Linked DNA regions of Homo sapiens: region 1 is linked to region 2. Evidence: fine-mapped expression QTL. A gene starts in region 2. The other region holds a variant in brackets. All regions are shown on one strand. Distances are from middle to middle. Region 1 has its middle 6.5 kb from the start of LINC02606. Region 2 holds the start of SPSB1 (splA/ryanodine receptor domain and SOCS box containing 1).

Region 1 (4,378 bases), 130 kb after region 2:
CAGGCCCCAAAGAAAGAAAGGCAGAATGGATTAATGTCAGGTTAGTTTCATCACCTTCTCAAAGAAAGCCAGGCTACAGAAACTTTGCTGGGCTGCCACTTCTGCACGGTTCAGCATTGTTGCTCTGCGAGGCTGACTTCAATGGATAAAGGATGATGGTAACTCTGGCTGGTTTCCAAGGCTTGCAGGGGGAGCGACACCCAGCCTCACCTTGGGAAGATTCTGCTTCTCCCACTCCCAGGGGAGGTACTGCTTTCCTTCTTCATCTGTTTCTTCTCTAAGAAGTCCCAGGTGGCAGGCCGGGCGCCGTGGCTCCTGCCTGTAATCCCAGCACTTTTGGGAGGCCGAGGCGGGTGGATCACGAGGTCAGGAGTTTGAGACCATCCTGACTAACACAGTGAAACCCCATCTCTACTAAAAATACAAAAAAATTAGCCAGGCGTGGTGGCAGGTGCCTGTAGTCCCAGCTACCTGGGAGACTGAGGCTGGAGAATGGCATGAACCCGGGAGGCGGAAGTTGCAGTGAGCTGAGATCGCACCACTGCACTCCAGCCTGGGTGACCAAAAAAAAAAAAAAAAAAGTCCCAGGTGGTAAGTTCATGAGTGGATAAAAATCTCAGTATAGGTCGAAGCAGATATTGGTGGTTGATGTTGGTGGTACAACAGTTCTTCTAGTTTCATTTTCTTTTCCTACCTGGCCCTCTGCTTGGCAGAACTGATATAGAAAAATCCACACACTCCCCAGTACACACAGCCCAAATATGTTTTTTATATGTTTAACAGTTTTATTGAGCTAGAATTTACTTACAAGAAGCTGCAGTAACGGAAAGTGTACAACTTAGTGAATGTTACCAGTTGCATATGCCTGGGAAACCACCACAATCAAGATAAAGCCAGATCTATTAGATTGGCTTCCTTGAATGGGTGACCCATTTTTTTTATTCTTGGCATTTTATTGGCAGGTGGCAGAAACTCAGCCCACACTACTTAGGCAAAGAAGAGGGGCTAGAGATGTGTGTAGTTGGAAAGTCCAGGAATACACCAGCTTCAGGTATGGCTGGCTTCAGGGGTTCAGAGGATGTCATGGGTGCCCTTTCTCCCCCTCTCAACCAAATTCTCTCTCTAGAGCTGGCAAGATGGCTGCTGGCAGTCCCCAACTAACATTCTATTTAGCAATGCCTAAGAAAAGGAGCAGTCTCCTCTGATGGCCCTGAGGAACTCCCATAGGGCAGCTTTGGGTCATGTGCCCAGCCCTGGATGGGGTAAAATCAGCACCGGGGATGTGTTTGTGAGAGCTGGGTGTGCTCATCTGTTCCCGAGTCCAAGGTCAGTGACGTCTCAGTGATGTTATGTCTGTAGCTTGAAGCTGGTAGTGGGGGAGTATTTACACCATGGAAATTGGCAAATGCTACAAATCAAGGCTTTCCTCCCTGTCCCCTCTGCCTGCCCCCAGCTGGCCATTAAACAGTTATGTACACTACCGAGTCAGTCCTACCTAAATCCATGAAATAGGTTCTCCTGAGGAAAGAGCTGTTCCGTTAATAAAAGAGGAAATTGACCCCAGTCAGACAGGAATAACCGAGGAACTTCACTCTGCTGAATTCAAAGCCACCTGCAGCAGACCTCAGGAAGGAGTCCTCCAAGATAACATCCCACCCCAAACCCCCAAGGGGACCAGACCAGGTTGAATCCACTGCAGAGATTGTTCAGCCAATACGGACCCTTCTAGAAGAAGGGCCCAGGCTTTGTTCCTCTCCGACAGCTCACCTCCCTCCCCCTACCCCCGACCCCAACCCCCAACCACTGCCAGTCACATTCTATGGAAAATTAAAGAACTTCCTAAGCCCGGCTGCTCTCTGCAAAGCCATTCCAGCAACCTAGACCCGTGATTTTCAGCTTGTTCAGCTATTTTAAAACAACCCTCGCAAAGCAGCCCCAGAAATGGGGGCTGCGGCTTGATTTGAGGTTAAACAAATAAGTACCATTTATCCACCAACGCTCTAGGAATGAAAGATTTCTTCAGGCTTATTCCCAAGCTGTGCGCTCCAGAAAA[G/A]CTGCTGTCCCAAATTGCCGGGTGCCAACCCAGTGTTCTTCATTTCCAAAGATACCTGGGGAGTTTTCAGCCGTGCTCTGCACAGAGCGCTAGGACGGATGGCAGTGTGGGCGGCCAGGCATGCCGCCTCAGCCTCCGCTCAGCCTCACCCTGGGTCTTCTTGGCTGTGTCAGCCTCTCATCCCGGGACCCACAGAACCCTTGGAGCTCCCGGGGCATTTCTTGGCCTGCTGGGAAATGGCGCCTCTCCATCTTAGGGGGCCCGGACCAGACTGCTGGCTGTTTGAGTCAGACAGCTTTTCTTCCCATGTTTTGAGGGTAAGCAAGAACGAGAAAAAGGAAGAAAACAAAACATATTCTCAAACAAATAAAACTGCACTCCATCGGCCAGAAAAGCTGAGCCTCTCTGGGATGTAGGGAACAGAAGCCACTCCACAGAGGACTCTCCCATCCCTTTCTCTCTAGGAGACATCCGTCTTTGTGCCCAAACTGGAAATCTGAACCGCAAGCTCTCTCATCTCCCTACTCTTGGAAGTTTTCTGTGGCAGAAACAATAATGTTCACTACACAGACCGTTGACTCCCCTGGGTTTCCCAGCTGTGCCATATGGCTAGCTTTGGCCGATGAAATTGAGCAGAAGTGATACGTGTCATTTCCAGGCTGAGGCAGTAAAAAGCTGGTGCGCCCTTCTCCAGGGTCTGTTTCCCAGCTGCCGCAGCCATGGAGGCCGTGTGTCCCAGATGGTGCAGCTACAGCTGATGGAACTTCCGTCAGCCTGGGTCCCTGAGTGAGTCTGTGGAAGAGAACTGCAACTGCCTGCCGACCTGCTGGGACAGACAACATGAGCAAGAAGTAAGCTTTCGCTGGGCTCAGCCACTGAGACCCAGGGGCTGTTTGTTACCATAGCGTTGCCTGGCACACCTGATTCAAGCTCCTGACACGCTCTGTAGACTTTGCTGTGTTGTTCACTGGGAGGCACCAGCATGCATGAGATAGAAAACACTTCCTTCCACTCTGGCCAATAGCCTTCACTCAAAATAGTGCCGATGAGTTTACATCCAGCCCCAAAGATTTAAGGAATTTCTCTCTGAGCTTGGGACCAGGTCTGTGCCTTCCTTTGTATTTCTCTACAGCACATGGTTGGCACTAGTATAAAAATGGCACTCTTCCACATGCCAAGGCATTTAACAGGCATGAAGCACGTTTGCTGATGATCTCCCATGAGGTGGAGGAGATAGGCTTAATTCCTGTTTTAAAGCTAAGAGCATTGCAGCTCAGAAGGATCACATTCAAGGTCACACAGCTAATTATAGTACTTGAACCTAGGTCTGTGTCTCTTGCCACAAAAACCAGTATTTCTCAAAATGTAGTTCTGGCCAGGTACGGTGGCTCACACCTGTAATCCCAACACTTTGGGAGGCCGAGGCAGGCAGATCACTCGAGGCCAGAAGTTCGACACCAGGCTGGCCAACATGACAAAATCCCTATCTCTACTAAAAATACAAAAATTAGCTAGGCGTGGCAGTGCATACCTGTAGCCCCACCTACTTGGGAGGCTGAGGCACAAGAGTCGCTTGAAGCTGAGAGGCAGAGGTTGCAGTGAGCTGAGATCACGCCACTGCACTCCAGCCTGGATGACAGAATGAGACTCTGTCTCAAAAAAAAAAAAAATGTAGTTCAGAGACTGAAAGCCAGGACCTGGGAATGTGCATTTTTTAAGTTCCTCAGGCCATAATTATGCTGAGTTTGAGAATCCTTGCCCCACATTGCTTCCAACCATCCTGCCAGCTTTCTACAGTGGGAGGGGAGCAGTGGGAATTTAGAGGTGAGCCAAAGGCTTACTTCCCCAACTAAAGCAACAAATAAAAAATGTCTCCCCTGCCAGACTGCTCTTTGTGCCTGAAATTATCCCAAAAGACTCATTTCTTTGGGTAAAAATACAAACAGTCCTAGATCACTCGGGACCTTCTCATGAATGAACTCGGGTGATTCCCAGCCAGGAACAATGGCTTGTACGAAGTCACTCTGCAATGTCAGCTTTTGCGGGGAAACATCAGTCAAGAGTCAAGACCTTGAACTGAAAAGGCAAATCCAGCTGGAGGTTGCAGGTGGTGAGATCCTGGACAGCAGGGAGAGGCTTAGCATCAATGGGGTGGGGGTGGGATGGGGTGGGGGTGGGGTGAAGGTGGTGGAGGACTCCCAGGAGAGAAAAAAAAATGCAACTGGGGGTAAGTGTGAAGCCACACATACCAGAGTCAGAAAGAACTGGAGGCCAGGTGTGGTGGCTCATGCCTGTAATCCCAGCACTTTGGGAGGCCAAGGCAGG
Region 2 (4,378 bases):
TTGCATTTTCAGTAGAGATGGAGTGTTGCCATGTTGGCCAGGCTGGTCCTGAACTTCTTTTTTTTTTTTTTTTTTTTTTTTTGTGAGACGGAGTCTCGCTCTGTCACCTGGGCTGGAGTGCAGTGGCGCAATCTCGGCTCACTGCAATCTCTGCCTCCCGGGTTCACACCATTCTCCTGCCTCAGCCTCCCAAGTAGCTGGGACTTACAGATGCCCGCCACCACGCCTGGCTAATTTTTTATATTTGTAGTAGTGACGGGTTTCATCGTGTTAGCCAGGATGGTCTCCATCTCCTGACCTCGTGATCCGCCCGCCTCGACCTCCCAAAGTGCTGGGATTACAGGTGTGAGCCACCAAGCCCAGCCTGGTCCTGAACTTCTGACCTCAGGTGATCCACCTGCCTCAGCCTCCCAAAGCGCTGGGATTACAGGTGTGAGCCATCATGCCCGGCCAATTATTATTATTATTATTTAATTTTTGTGCAGAGTCTGTGTCTTGCTCTGTTGCCCGGGCTGCTCTTGAACTCCTGGGCTTAAGTGATCTGCCTGCCTCAGCCACCCAAAGTGTGGGGATTAAGGGCGTGAGAGCCACCACCTCCAGCCTCAAGTGATCTTTTAAATGGGAAGCACCCCTAAGCTGCTGGCCATGGCTGCCCACCTGACTAGTCTGGGTTCAACATTCCTAAACCGCTGGCACCTGGAAAGTCAGAATGCCCACTCAGGCCCGCCCAGCCCAGGGCAGTTGGTTGAGTCTCCGTAATCCTATTCTGAGTTCAAACAAAGCTAAACCAAACTGATTTTCAGCACCGTAAAATGAGAGACATCAAACTTTGTAATCTCACAGTTCAATTGGGTTCCAAGCTCTGGACAGCTGGCCTCGGGCCAGGCACTGTTTCCTCGCCTTTACAGTGAGTGTGTCATTAGTCCCACCCTCACTGTACTGGGTTATGGTAAAGACACAGTAACTACGGAAGCCCCGCTATTTGTTTCGGCTCCCCCAGAAAGGCTAACTCCTCACCGTTTTCAATGGACACTACACAGCGAGGGGTGGGGAATGCCAGGAGATTTTGCTCTCAAAACAGCAAAGTCTTTAAAATCTTCCCAGTCCCAAGTGACTGCTCTGTTCGGGGAAGGGGGAGGAAAATTCCTTGAACGAGCTAGAGCCACAGGACAAGTCCCCAGAGGCTGGGACCTGTTCAGGGAGCAGCCCTGCGGATGCCAGGTGCCCGCGCCCTCAGGGTCTCGAGGTCCGAGGCCCCCGTCCCCGTGGGCACCGAAACGCGAGCGGCCGAAACAGCGCTGCAGGAGGCTCCCTGGACCCCCGGCGGCTGCCCACTCGTCCCCGCTGGGCACTTCAGAGGAGGCCGGCGAGGCCTTGCTCGGGGTTCCTGGGACAACCCCACTCTCCGCGAAGATTTCTCCTTCTCGTAAGACCCCCGCCCCCACTCCAGCCTCCCACGGCTGCAACCCAGGCCCTGCGCCACGCGTTTCCCAAAGACGCCTCCGGAGGGACCCGAGCTTCGGGCCGGCAACACCAGGGCGGCGGCTCGGGAGAGGGCTGCGGACTAAGGGGGCGGAGGGGGCGGCCGAACCAGCGCCGGGCTGACGCGCCCCGCGCCCCGCGCCCCGCGCCCCCGGCCTTCCCTGCAGTGCTGAGTGGTCCGTGCGCCCGAGGTCGGGGGCGGGGCGGGGCGGGGCGGGGCAGGGACGGCCCCGCCCACCGGCGCTTTTCTCTTTTTTTTCACTTTAAAGCCGTCGGTTGCTTTTTCTCCTCCGCACAGAAGTCGCGCTCGGGCAGCCTGCGCGCTCGCAGCAGGAACCAGGCTCCAGGCGCCGGCGCCGGGGCCGGGGCCGCGGGGAGGAGGCGACTTCGCTCCCTGCGGCGGGCGCGGCCCGGGCGCCCGAGCCTCCTCGGCCTTGGAGAGCAGCGGCGGCGGCGGCACCCCGGGCGCGGTAGGCGGCGCGGGGCACCTGGGACCCCGATGGGTGGGCGACCGGCCCGGGAGGGGGAGGCGCGGGGGGCCGGGCGAGGGCGGACGCGGGGATCGCGCCGCTGGGGGACCGAGTGGGTGGCGCGGGGCCGGGCGCGGGGGAGCGGGTGGAGTACGGGATGGGGACTCGGGGCGCGGCCCCTCCCGCGGTGGCTCCGGGGGCGCCTCCCTCGCCGCGGCTCCTGGGAGAGGGGCCCAGGCCCGCCCCGCGCTGCCGCCGCTGCAGGGCAGGGGGTCCCGGGGCGAGGCGCGGCGGGGGTCTCGGGGCGCGGGGACCGTCGCAACGAGTTGCGGTCCCGAGGAGGGGCTGGGGCGCTCCGGGGCCGCCGACCCGTCCCCCCTTTAGCCCGGGGAAAGCGGGACCCCGCTCGGCTGAGTTAGTTTCGCTTTTCCCGCCAGTCCGAGTCGGGATTGGCGGCGCGGCCCGGTCCCCCGTCGGGGCGCCCCCACCCTCCCGCAGCGCCTCCCCCAGGGAGCCTGCCGGGGACACCCGAGCGCCGCCCTCCCCGCCGCCCCGGAGCCGCCGCGGCTTCTCCCAGCAGCGGAGGGAGAGCCGGAGGGTTGTCAGGAAATCGATTAAATCAGAAAAACAAGGGCGGCCTGGGCCCGCGGGAGGAACCGCGGATGGGTCACCGTCCCCGGGCGTGTACTGGGCTCGGTGGCGTCCAGGTTCCGGTGAGGACGGGACGGCCCCGAGAGGAGGGTGCGGGTCTGCAGGAAGAGCGGGTGTCTCTGAGAGTGCATCTGCGTGTGTGTTTGTGCATGTCCTTGTGAATATGTGCCTGCGTATGAGTGTGTCTGTGTGTTCATGTGGGTGTGTGTGTGAGTGTGTCTCTAAGTGCATCTGTGTATTTATGTGCCTCTGAGTGTGTGTGTGAGTCTGTGTGTCTGTCAATGTGTGCCTGAGACTCTAAGTGACTGTGTGTGTGTGTGTGTGTCTGAGTGCGTCTTTGTGTATTTGTGTGTGCCTCTCTGTGTATGTCTGTGTGTCTTTGTGTGTGTCTGTGTGTGAGTGTGTATGTGTCTTTGGGTGTGTGTCTCTGCAAGTTTGTGTCTCTGAGTGTCTGTCTCTGCAAATGTGTGTCTCTGTGTCTTTGTGTCTGTGTGTGTCTTTGCGTGTGTGTGTCTTTGTGTCTCTTTGTGTGTCCACACGTGTCTCTGTGTCTGTCTCTGTGTCTGTGTCTCTGAGTGCGTCTGTGTATGTGTGAGTGTCTGTGTGTCTCCAAGTGTGTGTCTGTGTGTCTTTGTGTGTGTTTCTCTGTGAGTGTGTGTGGGGACCATCCAGGGGGCCCTCTGGTTCCTAGGTACTGCTCCTCATGGTGATTTCTTTACTTGGTTCTGGATAGCCGGGCATGCTGGGCCACAGACACCCCACTAGGCAAGCCCTGCTGGTGCCCCCGAGGAGAGCGCAGGCTCTTCCTCTCTCCATTTCTCTGAAAATGAACTACACAGTTTGGGGGTGAGTTGGCAGGGGCTGCTTCCTGAGTGAGTAATATTTAATTAAACACTCCAGTCTGTAGCATCAGAAACTGGTCATGAGTTGAGTTTTAACAGGTGTTCATGGTAAAAGCGCCATCCCTGGTGACTAAGGTTTGATGTCCTTGGAAGAATTTTCTCGTTGGGGGGGCTGGGCCCACAACTTCATTTCTCATCGTGGGGTGTGAGGAGAACAGCAAGCAAGGAAGGGGATGGGGGCCTCTCCCTTCTGCCCTGTCCCCCTCCTCAGACCCCCCTCCCAGTGGTGGAAAGCCCTGGGCTAAGCATGGGCAGCACAGGTGGTCTCTCCACACTGAGGAATTTTGGAGTCAGGGAAGTCCTGTCTTACTGTCTAGGCCAGCCTGTCCTAGAGAGGCCCAGAGAGGGCGGTTCACTTACCCAGACTGCACAGCCAGGGCTGTGGACCAAGACTCCCCAGTCCTGAAACTGTTGCTCTTGGTTACTGTCCCCAGCACTGAGGTCATGGGCCAGGCACTTCGTGTCTCCCCAGCTGTGAAGTGATGGGCTGGATTAGATCATTTAAAGCACTCCTGCTCTCTTACAGCTGCTTTTCTTCTGCAGGGAGCACTTTACCCAGTAGATGGAGTGTGTGTGTGTGTGTGAGAGTGTGAGTGTGTGTGTGTGTGTGTGTGTGTGCGCGCGTGCGGTTGGGGAGGTGTGGAGTGGACTAAGGCAATCACTTTACAAGTCTTCCTTTTCCAGTCTGGCTACCACCCTAGCAGCAGAGAAAACAAAAGCAGTAGCATGTTGGCCCCAGTGGCTCAGACAGCCCCGAGCAGGGAGCAAGGCGGGTGCCATGCCGGCTTAAGAGAGACCTGGCCCTGGGAAGAATCAGTGGGTTTCAGGGCTCTTAGGAAGGGGTGGGCCTGCCTGGGGCCCTGGTGATGTCAC

The links. PIP is the estimated chance that this variant, and not a neighbour inherited with it, causes the effect.
Region 1: its variant is the best candidate, but not a certain one, in a credible set for the expression of SPSB1 in whole blood (TOPMed, PIP 0.67).

The regions. Positions count from the first base shown.
Region 1 is chr1:9,420,336-9,424,713 of GRCh38, forward strand. No RefSeq gene overlaps it. Among named protein-coding and RNA genes, the nearest start is that of LINC02606, 6.5 kb to the right of the region's middle. The variant G/A (reference allele first, on the strand shown) is at 2,054.
Region 2 is chr1:9,291,120-9,295,497 of GRCh38, forward strand. SPSB1 (splA/ryanodine receptor domain and SOCS box containing 1) reads left to right here and starts at 1,775. Exons shown (of 3, transcript NM_025106.4): 1 at 1,775-1,952. RefSeq lists silencers at 1,440-1,609, 1,660-1,739, 1,810-1,879, 2,420-2,709.